2 separate regions of the Homo sapiens genome follow, and region 1 is linked to region 2. Evidence: fine-mapped expression QTL. Tissue or cell type: whole blood. Region 2 holds a variant in brackets; the other region holds the start of a gene. All regions are shown on one strand. Distances are from middle to middle.

Evidence for each region. PIP is the estimated chance that this variant, and not a neighbour inherited with it, causes the effect.
Region 1: it holds the start of RAVER1, and the variant in region 2 is fine-mapped to the expression of RAVER1 in whole blood (TOPMed, PIP above 0.99).

Annotation. Positions count from the first base shown.
Region 1 is chr19:10,329,087-10,337,086 of GRCh38, reverse strand. RAVER1 (ribonucleoprotein, PTB binding 1) reads left to right here and starts at 3,558. Exons shown (of 13, transcript NM_133452.3): 1 at 3,558-3,798; 2 at 6,561-6,627; 3 at 7,976-8,000. The coding sequence starts at 3,580. It overlaps ICAM3 (intercellular adhesion molecule 3), which reads left to right. Exons shown (of 7, transcript NM_002162.5): 3 at 1,111-1,416; 4 at 1,734-2,021; 5 at 2,305-2,559; 6 at 2,679-2,927; 7 at 3,028-3,311. The coding sequence ends at 3,230. RefSeq lists enhancers at 1,915-2,533, 3,158-3,297, 3,538-3,757, 3,248-4,164, 4,165-5,081 and a silencer at 3,930-4,153.
Region 2 is chr19:10,264,074-10,272,073 of GRCh38, reverse strand. It overlaps ICAM1 (intercellular adhesion molecule 1), which reads right to left and starts at 954. Exons shown (of 7, transcript NM_000201.3): 1 at 848-954. The coding sequence starts at 914. LIMASI (lncRNA inflammatory and mucous response associated, antisense to ICAM1) reads left to right here. Exons shown (of 4, transcript XR_007067138.1): 2 at 5,280-5,384. RefSeq lists enhancers at 153-392, 1,303-1,392 and a silencer at 3,747-4,041. The variant C/T (reference allele first, on the strand shown) is at 4,453.

The sequences.
Region 1 (8,000 bases), 65 kb before region 2:
CCATGCTGGAGTACAATGGCGCGATGTCAGCTCATTGCAACCTCCGCCTCCTGGGTTCAAGTGATTCTCCTGTCTTAGCCTCCTTAGTAGCTGGGATTACAGGCGTGTGACACCATGCCCGGCTAATTTTTGTATTTTTAGTAGAGACAGGGTTTTGCCATATGGGCCAGGTTGGTCTCAAACTCCTGACCTCAAGTGATCCGCCTCCCTCGGCCTCCCAAAGTGGTGGGATTACAGGCATGAGTCACCTTGCCCAGCCTTTTTTTTTTTTTTTTTTTTTTTGACATAGAGTCTCTCTCTGTCGCCAGGCTGGAGTGCAGTGGCACTATCTCAGCTCACTGCAAATTTTGCCTCCTGGGTTCAAGCGATTCTTGTGCCTCAGCCTCCTGAGTAGCTGGGATTACAGGCACGTGCTACCATGCCTGGCTAATTTTTGTATTTTTAGTAGAGATGGGGTTTCACCATGTTGGCAAGGCTGGTCTTGAACTCCTGGTCTCAGGTGATCCGTCCACCTTGGCCTCCCAAAGTGCTGGGATTACAGGCATGAGCCACAGTGCCCGGCCTGAGGCCCAGCGTTTTGTAGGTGTACTGGGGAGGGCACCCAGCCTGGGAGTGTCAAGTCTCCTGTGACTGTGCCGGAGTATCTTGAGAGGCTGCCACAGGGCTGGTGAACCAGGAAAGCCCTGAGTGTCTGAACCTGATTGGAGAGAACTGAATAATCCTGACCTTTTGATCCACCCACCCCGGCCTCCCAAAGCTCTGGGATTACAGGCGTGAGCCACCACGTCTGGCCATAAACAGGAATTTTTAATATTCATATCATAGTCATAAACGTTCATCCCTTCCATCCTCATTTTTTTTTATTGTGCCATCTTTGAGAACAGAAAGTTTTGTTTAGCGCCTTGCAAGGTATCTGACAACACAGGAAATGATAATCACTGCGCTAATGATAATAGCAAACGCTTCGACTGGCCCAGCTCTAAGCCCTCTAAGTTTATTAACTCAAAGCTCACAGTTCTCGGCAGGACCACCCTGTCTCCTCCCCAGTCCCTGGGGTGAGTGGGTGGGTTTGCAGGACCCGCTAAGTGCCATCCTCCCCTCCTCTCTCAGGGCTCCCGGAGCGTGTGGAGCTGGCACCCCTGCCTCCTTGGCAGCCGGTGGGCCAGAACTTCACCCTGCGCTGCCAAGTGGAGGATGGGTCGCCCCGGACCAGCCTCACGGTGGTGCTGCTTCGCTGGGAGGAGGAGCTGAGCCGGCAGCCCGCAGTGGAGGAGCCAGCGGAGGTCACTGCCACTGTGCTGGCCAGCAGAGACGACCACGGAGCCCCTTTCTCATGCCGCACAGAACTGGACATGCAGCCCCAGGGGCTGGGACTGTTCGTGAACACCTCAGCCCCCCGCCAGCTCCGAACCTTTGGTGAGAGAAGGGGCTTCAGACGGTGGGTGACGAGCTGAGCCAGGGTAGACGGTGCCCTGACCTTGGGGTTCCTGAGAGTGGGGTACCCCGGACCTCACAGGCTTCTGGGAAGGAAAGCCCCCGGCCACTGGGCAAGGTGGCCCCGGAAGGGAGGCCCGAGCCGTGGGATCTTTGAAGAAGGCCGTTTTCATGGCCCTGTGTGTGTGTCCTGTGAAGAAGGGTGACCCAGTCAGCAAGATATCCTGACTGGGGGGGATGAGGGTGTCCTGGGGAAGGCACAGTCCTGGGGGTTGTACTATGCCCACCTTTCTCCCCAGTCCTGCCCGTGACCCCCCCGCGCCTCGTGGCCCCCCGGTTCTTGGAGGTGGAAACGTCGTGGCCGGTGGACTGCACCCTAGACGGGCTTTTTCCAGCCTCAGAGGCCCAGGTCTACCTGGCGCTGGGGGACCAGATGCTGAATGCGACAGTCATGAACCACGGGGACACGCTAACGGCCACAGCCACAGCCACGGCGCGCGCGGATCAGGAGGGTGCCCGGGAGATCGTCTGCAACGTGACCCTAGGGGGCGAGAGACGGGAGGCCCGGGAGAACTTGACGGTCTTTAGTAAGAGGAGGCGTGGGAAGGGGGCGCGGCCTCAGCAGTCTGGGGGCGTGGCAGAGGGGGCGGAGACTAGCCGAAAAGGTGGGGCCTGGCTTGCCCCAATAGCAGTTGCAACGTGGGTTGGGCCTGAGTGCCCGAAGCTGGACACAGCGCGGAAAGAGGGCGAGGCTTGAACGGCCGAAAGCGTGGCCCGGATATCCCGAGAGGAAAGGGGAGGGCGGAGGGAGCGGCTTGACCCACAGGAAGGTCCTGTTCATTAAGCTCCTGGGCAATGCCCCGCCTTTAGGCTTCCTAGGACCCATTGTGAACCTCAGCGAGCCCACCGCCCATGAGGGGTCCACAGTGACCGTGAGTTGCATGGCTGGGGCTCGAGTCCAGGTCACGCTGGACGGAGTTCCGGCCGCGGCCCCGGGGCAGCCAGCTCAACTTCAGCTAAATGCTACCGAGAGTGACGACGGACGCAGCTTCTTCTGCAGTGCCACTCTCGAGGTGGACGGCGAGTTCTTGCACAGGAACAGTAGCGTCCAGCTGCGAGTCCTGTGTGAGTCGGTCACCCTGACCTTTAATCCCTCCACCCCTGCCCTGGAAAGATTAGACGCTCCTCTGCACCACTGTGCCTCGGGTGTGTTGGGTGTCTGATCACACATGGTGGTTCCACAGATGGTCCCAAAATTGACCGAGCCACATGCCCCCAGCACTTGAAATGGAAAGATAAAACGAGACACGTCCTGCAGTGCCAAGCCAGGGGCAACCCGTACCCCGAGCTGCGGTGTTTGAAGGAAGGCTCCAGCCGGGAGGTGCCGGTGGGGATCCCGTTCTTCGTCAACGTAACACATAATGGTACTTATCAGTGCCAAGCGTCCAGCTCACGAGGCAAATACACCCTGGTCGTGGTGATGGACATTGAGGGTGAGCTAACACGGGGCTGCGGGTCTGGACCGGTAAGCCGGGGGGCGGGGGGGTTGGAGACAGAAGGGACGCATATTGACTTAGCGCTTTCTCTGCACAGCTGGGAGCTCCCACTTTGTCCCCGTCTTCGTGGCGGTGTTACTGACCCTGGGCGTGGTGACTATCGTACTGGCCTTAATGTACGTCTTCAGGGAGCACCAACGGAGCGGCAGTTACCATGTTAGGGAGGAGAGCACCTATCTGCCCCTCACGTCTATGCAGCCGACAGAAGCAATGGGGGAAGAACCGTCCAGAGCTGAGTGACGCTGGGATCCGGGATCAAAGTTGGCGGGGGCTTGGCTGTGCCCTCAGATTCCGCACCAATAAAGCCTTCAAACTCCCTAATCTGTGGTTTGATTCCACCCGCGCTGCAAGTCTCTCCCACCCAGGTGCACATCCACTGAGTAGCGTCGCTGCGACGGAAGGGGGCGGGGCCTGTGGCGCGCAGACGCAGCTTGAACTCTTGAGAGGTGGGCTGGGGCTTAGCCAACGGGGCAAGGGGGGCGGGAAGGAGGTGGGGTTTCTCCCAGCCAATCGACGGGCGCGCCCTCGTTGCCGCTCTATGCCGCTCCGCCCCGGCTCGCTGGTCCCAGAAGGCGCCGGGTTTCCCAAGATGGCGGCGGACGTGTCCGTTACTCACCGGCCCCCGCTGAGCCCTAAGTCTGGGGCCGAAGTCGAAGCCGGCGATGCCGCGGAGCGCCGGGCGCCGGAAGAAGAGCTGCCGCCTCTAGATCCAGAAGAGATCCGGAAACGCCTGGAACACACCGAGCGCCAGTTCCGTAACCGCCGCAAGATACTGATCCGGGGCCTCCCGGGGGACGTGACCAACCAGGTATTGGGGGGGGCGGTGTAGGAGCGTGGCGGGAAATACCACGGTGCGCGTGCGCGGGGGGAACCGGGCGACACCAACGCTGAGGTGCGCGGGGGTCGTTGGCGGGGGCGCCCAAGCACCGGATCCACGCGGGATCGGGAGAGACCAAGAGCGGGACGTGGGGGGGCGATGATGAAAGGGGAAACCGACTGCGAAGTGAGGGAGGGCGTTGCTAGGGGCGACCACAGGCTTGGGCGACACCAAGTGATGGAAGCGGGCGGGGAATGGAAGGGGGCGGACAGCTTTGGTCCTGTTGGGGAATTGTGAATGGGCTGGTACATTGGACCACCAGTTGCCCCCTGCTTGGATGATGCTTTTCTCCACCCACTCTACCACAGGGTGGCGGGACCTCACATCCAGAAGTTTCAGGACTGCGGAGAGTACGCCCCTCCATATCACGCGTTTATTCACTGCTCTCAGAGATAAATCCGGAAGTTAACAGCAGCCCCTGGGTCTCAGCCCCCAAAACCTCAGGATTAATTTGGGAAAATGGGGTCTTCTGCCACCAGCCTACAGACCTACAGGAAGGAAGCGAGGCCTGTGTTCTATGGAGCCCCTCGTGGCTAATCTTCCTGCTAGGAGTGCCCTTCTCATGGGGCCAGCATGGGGCAGCGCTTCCCAATGCTCTTTGGACCCAGGGAAATGGCATCTATACTGCCCTGCCCTATGGCGGTGAAATAGGTTCTCGCTTCCTGCTGCTGAGATTCCCTGCTCTCCGGCCCACCAGCACACCGGGTGGGCACGTGGCTAGTGGAACCCCAGGGATGTTGGGAGGGGCTGAATTTGGGGACAGATCGGGACAGGGATCATTAAGGATGGTCAGGTTTCTTTCTGGGTCTTCCTCTCAGTGTCTGCAGTCTCTCAGCTGGGAACACATTGTCTCTCCTGCAAGATGCACAGTGTGTCTGGTCCCAGCAGGCGCCAGCACTTTGCCTTCAAAGCTGGCTTGAGAGGCTGGGCATGGTGGCTCATCCCTTTAATCCCAGCACTTTGAGAGGCTGAGGCAAGAGGCTGTATTGAGCCCAAGGGTTCGAGACTAGCCTGGGCGGTATAGTGAAACCCTCATCTCTACAAAAAATTTTTAAAAATTAGCCAGGCATGGTGGTGCGTGCCTGTAGTCCCAGCTACGCAGGAGGCTGAGGTGGGAGGATCACTTGAGCCTAGGAGGTTGAGGCTGCAGTGAGCTATGATTGTGCTACTACACTCTAGCCTAGGTGACAGAACAAGACACTATCTCTAAAAAAAAGAAAAATAAATGAGCTGGCTTGGAAGAGGGCAGCTTTATCAGCAGGAGGAAATTGGGAGGCATGTGAACCCACACAACGTGGGGCTTACTAGAAGGTGGGCTCCCCAGTCAGGTACCCATGGGTGGCTGCGCTGCCCAACTGCATGGCCTCCAGCAGATCTCTTCACTTCTCCTAGCCTAAGTTTTCTCATATACAACATGAGTTTGTTAATACTTCACTTACAGAGTTGTTGGAAACAGTGAATCTTGCAAAAGGAGGTTCATGCAGGTTAAATGGCTTCCCTAAAGGCATACTCTTTTTTTTTTTTTTTTTTTTTTTGAGACGGAGTCTCACTCTGTCGCCAGGCTAGAGTGCAGTGGCTTGATGTCTGCTCACTGCAACCTTCACCCCTCGGGTTCAAGCAATTGTCTTGCCTCAGTCTCCCGAGTAGCTAGGACTACAGGTGCACGCCACCACAGCCAGCTGATTTTTGTATTTTTAGTAGAGATGGGGTTTCACCTTCCTGGCCAGGATGGTCTCGATCTCTTGATCTTGTGACCCGCCTGCCTCAGCCTCCAAAGTGCTGGAATTACAGGCGTGAGCCCGGCCTCTTTTTTTTTTTTTTTTTTTGTTGTTGTTATTTTTTTTTTTTTTTTTTTTTTTTTTTGAGACGGAGTCTCGCTCTGTCGCCCAGGCTGGACTGCGGACTGCAGTGGCGCAATCTCGGCTCACTGCAAGCTCTGCTTCCCGGGTTCACGCCATTCTCCTGCCTCAGCCTCCCGAGTAGCTGGGAATACAGGCGCCTGCCACCGCGCCCGGCTAATTTTTTTGTATTTTTAGTAGAGACGGGGTTTCACCTTGTTAGCCAGGATGGTCTCGATCTCCTGACCTCGTGATCCACCCGCCTCGGCCTCCCAAAGTGCTGGGATTACAGGCGTGAGCCACCGCGCCCGGCCTTGTTGTTATTGTTGTTGACAGTGTCTCCCTTTGTCACCCAGGCTGGAGTGCAGTGGCACACTGCAACCTCTGCCTCCTGGGTGCAAGCAGTTCTCCTACCTCAGCCTCCCGAGTAGCTAGGATTACAGGTGTGCGCCACCACTCCTGGCTAATTTTTGTATTTTTAGTAGAGACAAGGTTTCACCATGTTGGCCAGGCTGGTCTCGAACTCCTGACCTCAGGTGATTCACCCGCCTCGGCCTCCCAAAATGCTGGGATTATAAGCGTGAGCCACCCCGCCCAGCCAGCTAAAGGTATACCCTCTAAGAGCATGTTGCCTGGGTAATAGCACAGTCTGCAGCTAGGTTCTGAATCCCATCTCTGCCAGGTATGAGCAGAATGACCTTGACAAAATTACTGCATCGAGCCTCAGTTTCCTCATTGGTAAAATGGGGGGTGGTAATTGACCTGCCTTCATAGCTGGTGGCAGCTATGAAGCGGCACTGGGTTGCCCCCTTCCATCTCCAGTAACTCCCTGTCTTTTGTCTTGTATCTCCACAGGAAGTACATGACCTGCTCAGTGACTATGAGCTCAAATACTGTTTTGTGGACAAATACAAAGGGACAGGTTTGTGGGGCCATGGGGCGGGCCAGGGCAGGGAGTGACCATCCCTGAAGATGGGAGGGCCTGGCTCACTGTCTGCTGCTCTGAGCTTCAGGCCCAGTATTGCCCCCCAGGCCAACATGGCAGGTTGCCCCAATCTGCCTGTCATCCTGTCATCTTGGGACAGCCTTCATGTTCTCCTTGGAGAACACTGGGCATCGGGCTGATTCTCTTCCTACTCCACTCGCTTGGCATTGAGCTAATTCTTGACAACGTTTGGCCGTGGGTTCATTCTCTTCTTACCCCTCTTGCCTCACTCAGCCAGTCACCCCTGCTTGTGTGGTCTTTTTTTTTTTTTTTTTGAGATGGAGTCTTGCTCTGTCGCCAGGCTGGAGTGCAGTGGCGCGAGCTCGGCTCGCTGCAACCTCCGCCTCCTGGGTTCAGCCCATTCCCCTGCTTCAGCCTCCCGAGTAGCTGGGATTACAGGCATGTGCCACCATGCCCGGCTAATTTTTGTATTTTTAGTAGAGACAGGGTTTCTACCTGGGTGGGTCCAGGTTAACCAGGTGAGGAGGTGGGGCTCAGTGTTCCATGCTCAAGAAACAGCAGCTGCAAAGGCCCCTCTGGAGTGTGCCTGGCGTGGTCCGGGTGGCAGCGGTGAGATGGGAGGGGAGGTCAGCGAGCCCGCACAGGCTGCACTGCACCCTGCAGCTAGAAGCCACAAGATGGATGTGGCGTGATCGTTTTGAACAAAGCTTCCTGCGGCCGCTGGGTGGATCGCAAATCTGGGGCAGCACGTGGCAGCAGGGTTCAGGGGCACTGGTGGCCTGGAAAGGTGGCAGGGGTGGGCAGTGTGTAGAGTGGGCCTCTGGAGTCCGGCTGCCTGGGTTCAAGTCCAGGCTCCCCTACTCGGGGCACAGGGGTGCTGCTCTGGGCCCGTTTCCTCTCTGGCAAAATGGTGATTGTGATGATTAAGTTATATCCATTTGAGAGATGAGGAAACTGATACCCCCAAAGCCACCTGGGGCTTGGGGCTTAAATCTGGGCCCCAGTGAGCATGGGCTTAACCACTGCCCTTGGTATCACCCGAGTGACCCACAGCGTTCTTAGGACAGAGCCAGGCCCACAGTTGGTGAGCGCTGCTGTGGGTGCAGGTGGACGCAGGGCTGGGAGAGGGAGTGGGCTTCGTGGAGCCTAGAGTCAATGGCAGGCGCTCTCGCCTGTGTGAGTCGCCAAGGCTGGCAACTGCTCAGATCAGCAGGCACCTGAGATGCCCAGCATTTGGAGGTCCCACCTGGTTTGCAGGGTGGCGGGGTGGAGGGGCAGGCCCTCAGGGCCCGGCTGACCTCGCACTGCCCTCCTCCCACCGCAGCCTTCGTGACCCTGCTGAATGGGGA
Region 2 (8,000 bases):
CCTTAAGTGATTCGCCCGCCTGGGGCTCCTAAAGTGTTGGGATTACTGGCATGAACTACCGTGCTGGCCTGGATCTCAGGCTTTGTTGAGCTGTTAACCAAGCTGTCAATCTCCCACCCTCCTGGTTCCCCAAACTTACACCACCATGAAAGACCCTCTGACCCCTTCCCTCTTCCCTAGCTGGGCTGGAGCTGGGGGAGGGTGTGCTGGGGCGTCCCACTTCTCAGCTTTGGGCCACGGATAAGTCAGCTCTGGAATTCCCCCAAGTAGAAGCAGCCCTGGACTTCCCCAGGGGCAGAGAGGATGAGGAACAGAATATACATCTTGAGGGGGGTGGGGGTCCCTTAAGCCTTGTTGGGTTGGCACAGAGCCAAGTTCCCAAACCATCATGATCGAGTCCTGGGGCCAGGTGCTGCGCTGGGCCAAGATACCCTGCCAGGTGGCCGCTATAACGTTTCCCGTTTTACAGCTGAGAAACTGTAAGAGACGCAATCTAGCCAAGCAAGGCGGTGGTTCACACCTCTCATCCCAGCTACTCGGGAGGCTGAGGCAGGAGGTAAGGCTAGACCCCCGGAGTTCAAGACCGGCCTGGGCAACAAAACGAGGCCCGCCCCTCCCCTCCATCTCCAACCCCCTACCCTTTTTTAAAGCTGCAATCTATAGCCCAAGGCCACACGTGGAGGTATGCAGGGTCTGGATTCGAACCTACTGGCTGTTGCCTTTCAATCGCTGTCTCTAGCCCCTCCTTCCCATAAACAGCTACCTAAGCATGCATGACCTGACCCGGGAGCCGGTCCTCCCGGGGCTTCGGAGAACTGGCCCGACGGCAATCCCCACCCCGACTCACCTGGGAACAGAGCCCCGAGCAGGACCAGGAGTGCGGGCAGCGCGGGCCGGGGGCTGCTGGGAGCCATAGCGAGGCTGAGGTTGCAACTCTGAGTAGCAGAGGAGCTCAGCGTCGACTGGGGCGCGTGATCCTTTATAGCGCTAGCCACCTGGGGGCCAAGGGGCGGTGCTGCTTTCCCGGAAACCTCGCGCCTTCCCCTCCGGAACAAATGCTGCAGTTATTTCCGGACTGACAGGGTGCCCGGGCCGAGAGGGTCATCCTCCCTCGCTGGCCGCTTCAGCTCCGGAATTTCCAAGCTAAAGCAATCGGGCGGCGGTGGCAGGGCGATGACCCCGGGGGCTGCTCCCGGCCTCCACGCCTCCCGTTTCCCGGCCAGGCTAAGCTTGAATCACGGTCTACACCGCGCTAAGCGGTTTATTAAGTACTTTTAAATACTGCCAACTTCCCCGGAGAGTGGAGACTGTTATTGTGTCCATTTCACAAAGCGGTAAACTGAGACTCCAGGCTGCGAGGGGGTCCGAACTCAAGTCCTCCCTCTCCAGCTTACGCAGGCCTCTTTAATCGAGTGGATGAGCCCCCTGCCTGGGTGGGGGCCCAGGAATCCTCCCCGGGCTCCCTCCACTGAGGGATGCCCCTCCCCCTAGGTCACGTCCACACCTAGCTGACACGGGCATTTCTCGAGAAGCGGCCAGAGCAGAGCCAGGCACCTCCCGGCGACCGCTAACCGTGGGAGTGACGAAGCGCGGTCTCACCACGTCCGGGGAAATCGGCGTCCTCTCTCTACACCCGAGGGCACTCACCCCGGCGGCCTCCTCGCTTCCCCTTTCGGCCTTGGCCGCGGAGGCGTCTTTACAGCTCCCAGAAAAAGGAAGGAAGCTGCGTGATCCCTACGCGCCGAGCCCCTCCGCTGGCGTCCCAGGCTCCGCGGGGAAACTGAGGCAGCTAGCTTGGATCTTGACGAGGGAGGGGAGGGGGACGCTCGAAATCCCTGCCTGTCGCTGGGAAACTGAGGCAGCAGCCCCCAGGCGCAGAGGCGAGGCAGGGAGAAGGGGCGCTCGAACCCCTGCCCTACGCGCGAGGCTCCGGCAACTCGAACCCAGGCTCATGCACTAAATATGAGCGGGTGTTTGCTTGGCCACCGCCTGTGCGTGTGACCCCAAGACTCGACATCCACCACGTCGAGGCTGGGTACTCTTAAGTCTCCGAGCACCAAGCCGCGCCGCCTAAGGCTTTCCTGTTGTGGGGCGCGCGCGGCGTCGCCATGGAGATCTCCGAGGGGCCAGGGAGGTCGCGCAGCAGAAGGGGAAGCGAAGGGTCCCCGGACGCGCAGGCCCTTCCTATCGGGGAAGGGGGCTGCGAGTCACTGGCCATCCAGAGACGCATATTTCCCCCGCCTCGGTCATTCCCAAGGAATTTCCACGGGGATATTTTTTTCTTGGGGGGCTGAGGAGTTCTGAATTCCCGCCCCGGAACGGCCTGAGCAAAGTCACAGGGTGGGACGGGGGACGCCCCTGGTCCTCAGAAGGCCTGGGAAAATCCTGCGCCACGGGTTCTTCCTCGGGCGGGTTCCACTGAGCTCTTGCCCCGGCCCGAGGTGCGCGAGCTCCCCCGCGCGGCCCAAGTCCCACTTGCAGCCACAATGGTGCCGTTCTTTTCTCAACATGTGGCTCAATGTTTTTTAAGCGCCTACTGTGTGCTTGGCGTCCTTCCAGGTACTGGGGACACAGGAATGAACAGAGTCAGACAAAAATCCACCTGGGCGCGGCTCCCACCTGTAATCCCAGCATTTTGGGAGGCCGAGATGGGAGGATCACTTGAGCCCAGGAGTTCAAGACCAGCCTGGGCAACATAGGGAGACCCCCATCTCTATGCAAAATACAAAAATTAGCCGGGTGTGGTGGTGCACACCTGTAATTCCACCTACTTGGGAGGCTGATGCAGGAGAATCTCTTGAACCCGGCAGGCGGAGGTTGCAGTGAGCCAAGATAGAGGCACTGCACTCCAGCCTGGGTGAGAGTGAGACTCAAAAAAAAAAAAAAAAAAAAAAAAAAAGGAACAGCCAGGAGAACAGTGTGGCTGGAGCAGGCTTAGCAAAGGAGAGATTCGAGGAGAGGAGCGGGCAGGGAGATGACAGGGCAGATAGGTGCAAGTTCCTGTCACCTGAGGAGGACTTTGTTGTTTTGTTTGTTTGTTTCTGAACCCCAGTCTCGTTCTGTCACCCAGGCTGGAGCACAGTGGTGTGATCTCGGCTCACTGCAAACTCTGCCTCCCAGGTTCAAGCGATTCTCCCACCTCAGCCTACCGAGTAGCTGGTACTACAGGGGTGCGTCACCACGCCTAGCTAATTTTTGTATTTTTAGTAGAGATGGGGTTTCACCATGTTGGTCTCTAACTCCTGACCTCTAGTGATCCGCCCCCCTTGGCCTCCCAAAGTGCTGGGATAACAGATGTGAGCCACCGTGCCTGGCCAGGACTTTGGCTTTTATGCCCAGCGAGGTGGGAGGTATAGAGGGTTCTGAGCAGAGGAAGGACCTTGCCCTAACTCAAGTGTTCACAGGGGCCCAGTTGAGGCTTCAAGAGCTGCAGCCAGGAGATGGGAGAGGAGGTGACTGTTCTAGTCCAGATGAATGATAGTGGGGCCTGGACTGGGCAGTGTCCTTGGAGAAAGGGCTGAATTTGACATCCGTTTTGGAGGCTGGGCCAACTGGAGGTGCTGGGACAAGGGGGATGACTCCTTGATCAGGGTCCGAGCCTTTTGGAGGATGGCGGGTCACTTTCTGAGATGGGAGTGGGATGGCTATGGTAGGGGGCAGGCTGGCAGAGAGAGACGGCACCTCCCAGTCCTCCGTTCCCTTAAGCGTTTTTCAAGGAAAAGGGAAGCAGATATTTCCTAGACCTTTGTTTCTGTCTCCAGGAAGGGCAGGGCTTCCTCCCGGTTGCCAGACAGTCAGGCAGGCCAAAGAATGGCCTCAGACCAGAGGCTGCCCACCAAGGGCAGAAGCCATCCCATAGTGTCCCATGCAAACGCCTTGCAGTTCCCTCAGCCTGGAATGCTCTTCCCTTCAACCCCAACAAGGCTGGCTCCTCCTGTCTTGTGGCCTGAGCTTTCTCCTAAATGAGTGTCCCCCCTACTCCATCCTGGGCCACATCCTGGGCGTTCCTTGTCACTCGCCTTAATATTCGAATTCCTTAACTCATTACTTGCTGAATTTCTTTTTTAATTTTTTGAGACAGAGTTTCACTCTGTCACCCTGGCTAGAGTGCAGTGGCACGATCTCAGCTCACTGCAACCCCTGCCTCCCAGGTTTAAGTGATTCTCCTGCCTCAGCCTCCCGAGTAGCTGGGATTACAGACATACGCCACCAGACCCGGCTAATTTTTGTGTTTTTAGTAGAGACGGGGTTACACCATGTTGGCCAGCCTGGTCTCAAACTCCTGACCTCAAGTGATCCACCTGCCTTGGCCTCCCAAAGGGCTGGGATTATAGGCATGAGCCACTGCTCCCGGCCTATTTAGTTTTTTTTTTTTTTTTTTTTTTGAGACAAAGTCTCGCTCTGTTGTCCAGGCTGGAGTACAGAGGTGTGATCTCGGCTCACTGCAACCTC[C/T]GTTTCCTAGGTTCAAGAAATTCTTCTGCCTTAGCCTCCCAAATAGCTGGGATTACAGGCACCCACCAACACCCCTGGCTAACTTTTGTATTTTTTTTTTTTTTCAAGATGGAGTCTCACTCTGTGGCCCAGGCTGGAGTGCAGTGGTGCGATCTCGGCTCACTGCAACCTCCACCTCCCAGGTTCAAGTGATTCTCCTGCCTCAGCCTCCCAAATAGCTGGGACTACAGGTGCGTGTCACCACGCACAGCTAATTTTTTGTATTTTTAGTAGAGACAGGGTTTCACCGTGTTAGCCAGGATGGTCTCGATCTTCTTACCTCATTATCTGCCTGCCTCACCCTCCCAAAGTGCTGGGATTACAGGCGTGAGCAAACGCACCCGGCCAACTTTTGTATTTTTATTTTACTTTTCATTTTATTTATGTAAATTTTTGTGAGGTCGTCTCACTCCGTCGCCCAGGCTGGAGTGCAGTGGTGCAATCTCGGCTCACTGCAACCTCTACTTCCCAGGTTCAAGCGATTCTCTTGCCTCAGCCTCCCAGGTAGCTGAGACTACAGGTACCCACCACCACATCTAGCTAATTTTTGTATTTTTAGTAGAGATGAGGTTTTACCATGTTGGCCTGGCAGGTCTAGAACTCCTGACCTCAGGTGATCCGCCCGCCTTGGCCTCCAAAAGGCGTGAGCCACTGTGCCCGGCAGAGCTTATCTTTGATTACAGATTTCTTCTGGGGAATAGCTTAGTTTGTGGTTTTGTTTTTCAAAACTCTGCTTCAGCAAAGATGTGGGGAAAAAAAAAGGGCTATGGAAACTCTTCTGATTCCAGTTTTGGTGATGGAAGACAGCCACCAGGAAACCCTGCCGAAAGAATGGGTCAGATCAATAATCTGAGCGGTCCCAGTCCTCCTCCAATGGCTGATGGATGAGGAAGGTAAATATCAGTTCTAAGAAGCAGACAACTGGACATGCACATTCATAGCAGAAGGAAACCGTCAAAAAGTAGAGGGAAGGTGGGGTGCAGTGGCTCACCCCTGTAATCCCAGCCCTTTGAGAGACTGAGGTGGGAAGATCACTTGAGATCAGGAGTTCAAGACCAGCCTGGGCAACACAGTGAGAACCTGTCTCTACAAAAAACAAAATAAGTAATCCCAGCACTTTGGGAGGCCGAGGCAGGCGGATCACGAGGTCAGGAGATCGAGACTATCCTGGCTAACACAGTGAAACCCCATCTCTACTAAAAATACAAAAATTAGCCGGGAGTGGTGGTGGGCGCCTGTAGTCCCAGCTACTCGGGAGGCTGAGGCAGGAGAATGGCGTGAACCCAGGAGGTGGAGTGCAGTGAGCCGAGACCATGCCACTGCACTCCAGCCTGGGCAACAGAGTGAGACTAAGTCTCTAAATAAATAAATAAATAAATAATAAATAAAATTTAAGGCCGTGTGCAGTGGCTCACACCTGTAATCTCAGCACTTTGGGAGGCCAAGGCAGGAGAATCACCTGAGGTCAGGAGTTCGAGACCAGCCTGGCCAACATGGTGAAACCCTGTCTCTACTAAAAATACAAAAATTAGCTAGGTGTGGGGACGCGGGCCTGTAATCCCAGCTACTCGGGAAGCTGAGGCAGGAGAATTGCTCGAACCTGGGAAGTAGAGGTTGCAGTGAGCCGAAATCACGCCACTGGACTCCAACCTGGACAACAGAGTGAGACTCTGTCTCAAAAAAATAAATAAAATAAAATTTAAAAAGTGGAGGGCTGACCATGCTGGACGAGCAGATAAAATGTGTATGTCTAAACAACAGTTGCTGACCAGGCACCTGTCATCCCAGCACTTCGGGAGGCCGAGGTGGGTGGATCACTTGAGGTCAGGAGTTTGAGACCGGCCTGCCCAAACTGGTGAAACCTCATCTCTAGTAAAAATAAAAAAATTAGCTGGGCATGGAGGCACAAGCCTGTAATCTCAGCTACTCAGGAGGCTGAGGCATGAGAATCTCTTGAACCCGGAAGGTGGAGGTGGCAGAGGGCTGAGATCATGCCACTGCACTCCAGTCTGGGCAACAGAGTGAGATCCATCTTAAAAAAATAAAACACAAGGATTGCTCTGTCTTCACAAGTGAATGAGGTCATGCTGGGAATTCCCTCTGCAGGGACTGGACTGACCAACATGCAGTTCTCTAAATAAATGCATATTTATCTGATTATCATTTTTGTGTAGTTAAGCATTAACACAGTTTTTGTGTGTGTGTGTGTATTTTTTTTTTTTTTTCGAGACGGATTCTCGCTCTGTCGCCCAGGCTGGAGTGCAATGGCGCGATCTCAGCTCACTACAACCTCTGCCTCCCCGGTTCCTGCCATTCTCCTGCTTCAGCCTCCTGAGTAGCTGGGACTACAGGCACCCACCACCGCGCCCGGCTAATTTTTTGTATTTTTTAGTAGAGACGGGGTTTCACCGTGTTAGCCAGGATGGTCTCAATCTCCTGACCTCGTGTTCCACCTGCCTCGGCCTCCCAAAGTGCTGGGATTACAGGCATGAGCCACCGCACCCGGCCAGCATTAACATAGTTTTGATAAATATTTTTTGGGGCCAGGCTCGGTGGCTCACGCCTGTAATCCCAGCACTTTGGGAGGCCGAGGCAGGCAGATCACGAGGTCAGGAGTTTGAGATCAGCCTGACCAATATGGTGAAATCCCGTCTCTACTAAAAATACAAAAATTAGCCAGGCATGGGGATGCGTGCCTGTAATCCCAGCTACGCGGGAGGCTGAGGCAGGAGATTTGCTTGAACCGGGAGGCAGAGATTGCAGTGAGCCGAGGTTGCACCACTGCACTCCAGCCTGGGTGACAGAGCGAGACTCTGTCTCAAAAAAAACCAAAAAAACAAAAAACTGTGTATTCAGTACTCTCAGTGTCACCTTCTCCAAATTTTGAAATACAGCTCCTTATTTATTTATTTAGAGATGGAGTCTCGCTCTGTCCCCCAGGCTGGAGTGCAGTGGCGTGATATCGCCTCACTGCAACCTCCGCCTCCAGGGTTTAAGCGATTCTCCTACCTCAGCCTCCCATAGCTGAGATTACAGGCGCCCGGCACCATGCCCGGCTAATTCTTTTGTATTTTTAGTAGAGATGGGGTTCCACTATATTGGTCAGCCTGGTCTCGAACTCTTGACCTCAAGTGTTCCACCTGCCTTGGCCCCCCAAAATGCTGGGATTATAGGCATGAGCCACCACACCCAGCCTACGGCTCATTATTAATTCGTTCTCATTTATAAATAAATATCTCACTGTATTTATTTCAGTAGTTTTGCAAAAAACAAAAACAGAAAACTTTTTTTTTTTTTAGATGTGCCGTGATGTGGTCTCGGCTCACTGCAACCTCCACCTCCTGGGTTCAAGTGATTCTCCTGCCTCAGCCTCCCAAGTAGTTGCGACTACAGGCTTCTGACACCACGCCTGGCTAAATTTTTTTTTTTTTTTTTTGAGATGGAGTCTCACTCTGTCACCCAGGCTGGAGTGCAGTGGCGCGATCTCAGCTCACTGCAAGCTCCGCCTC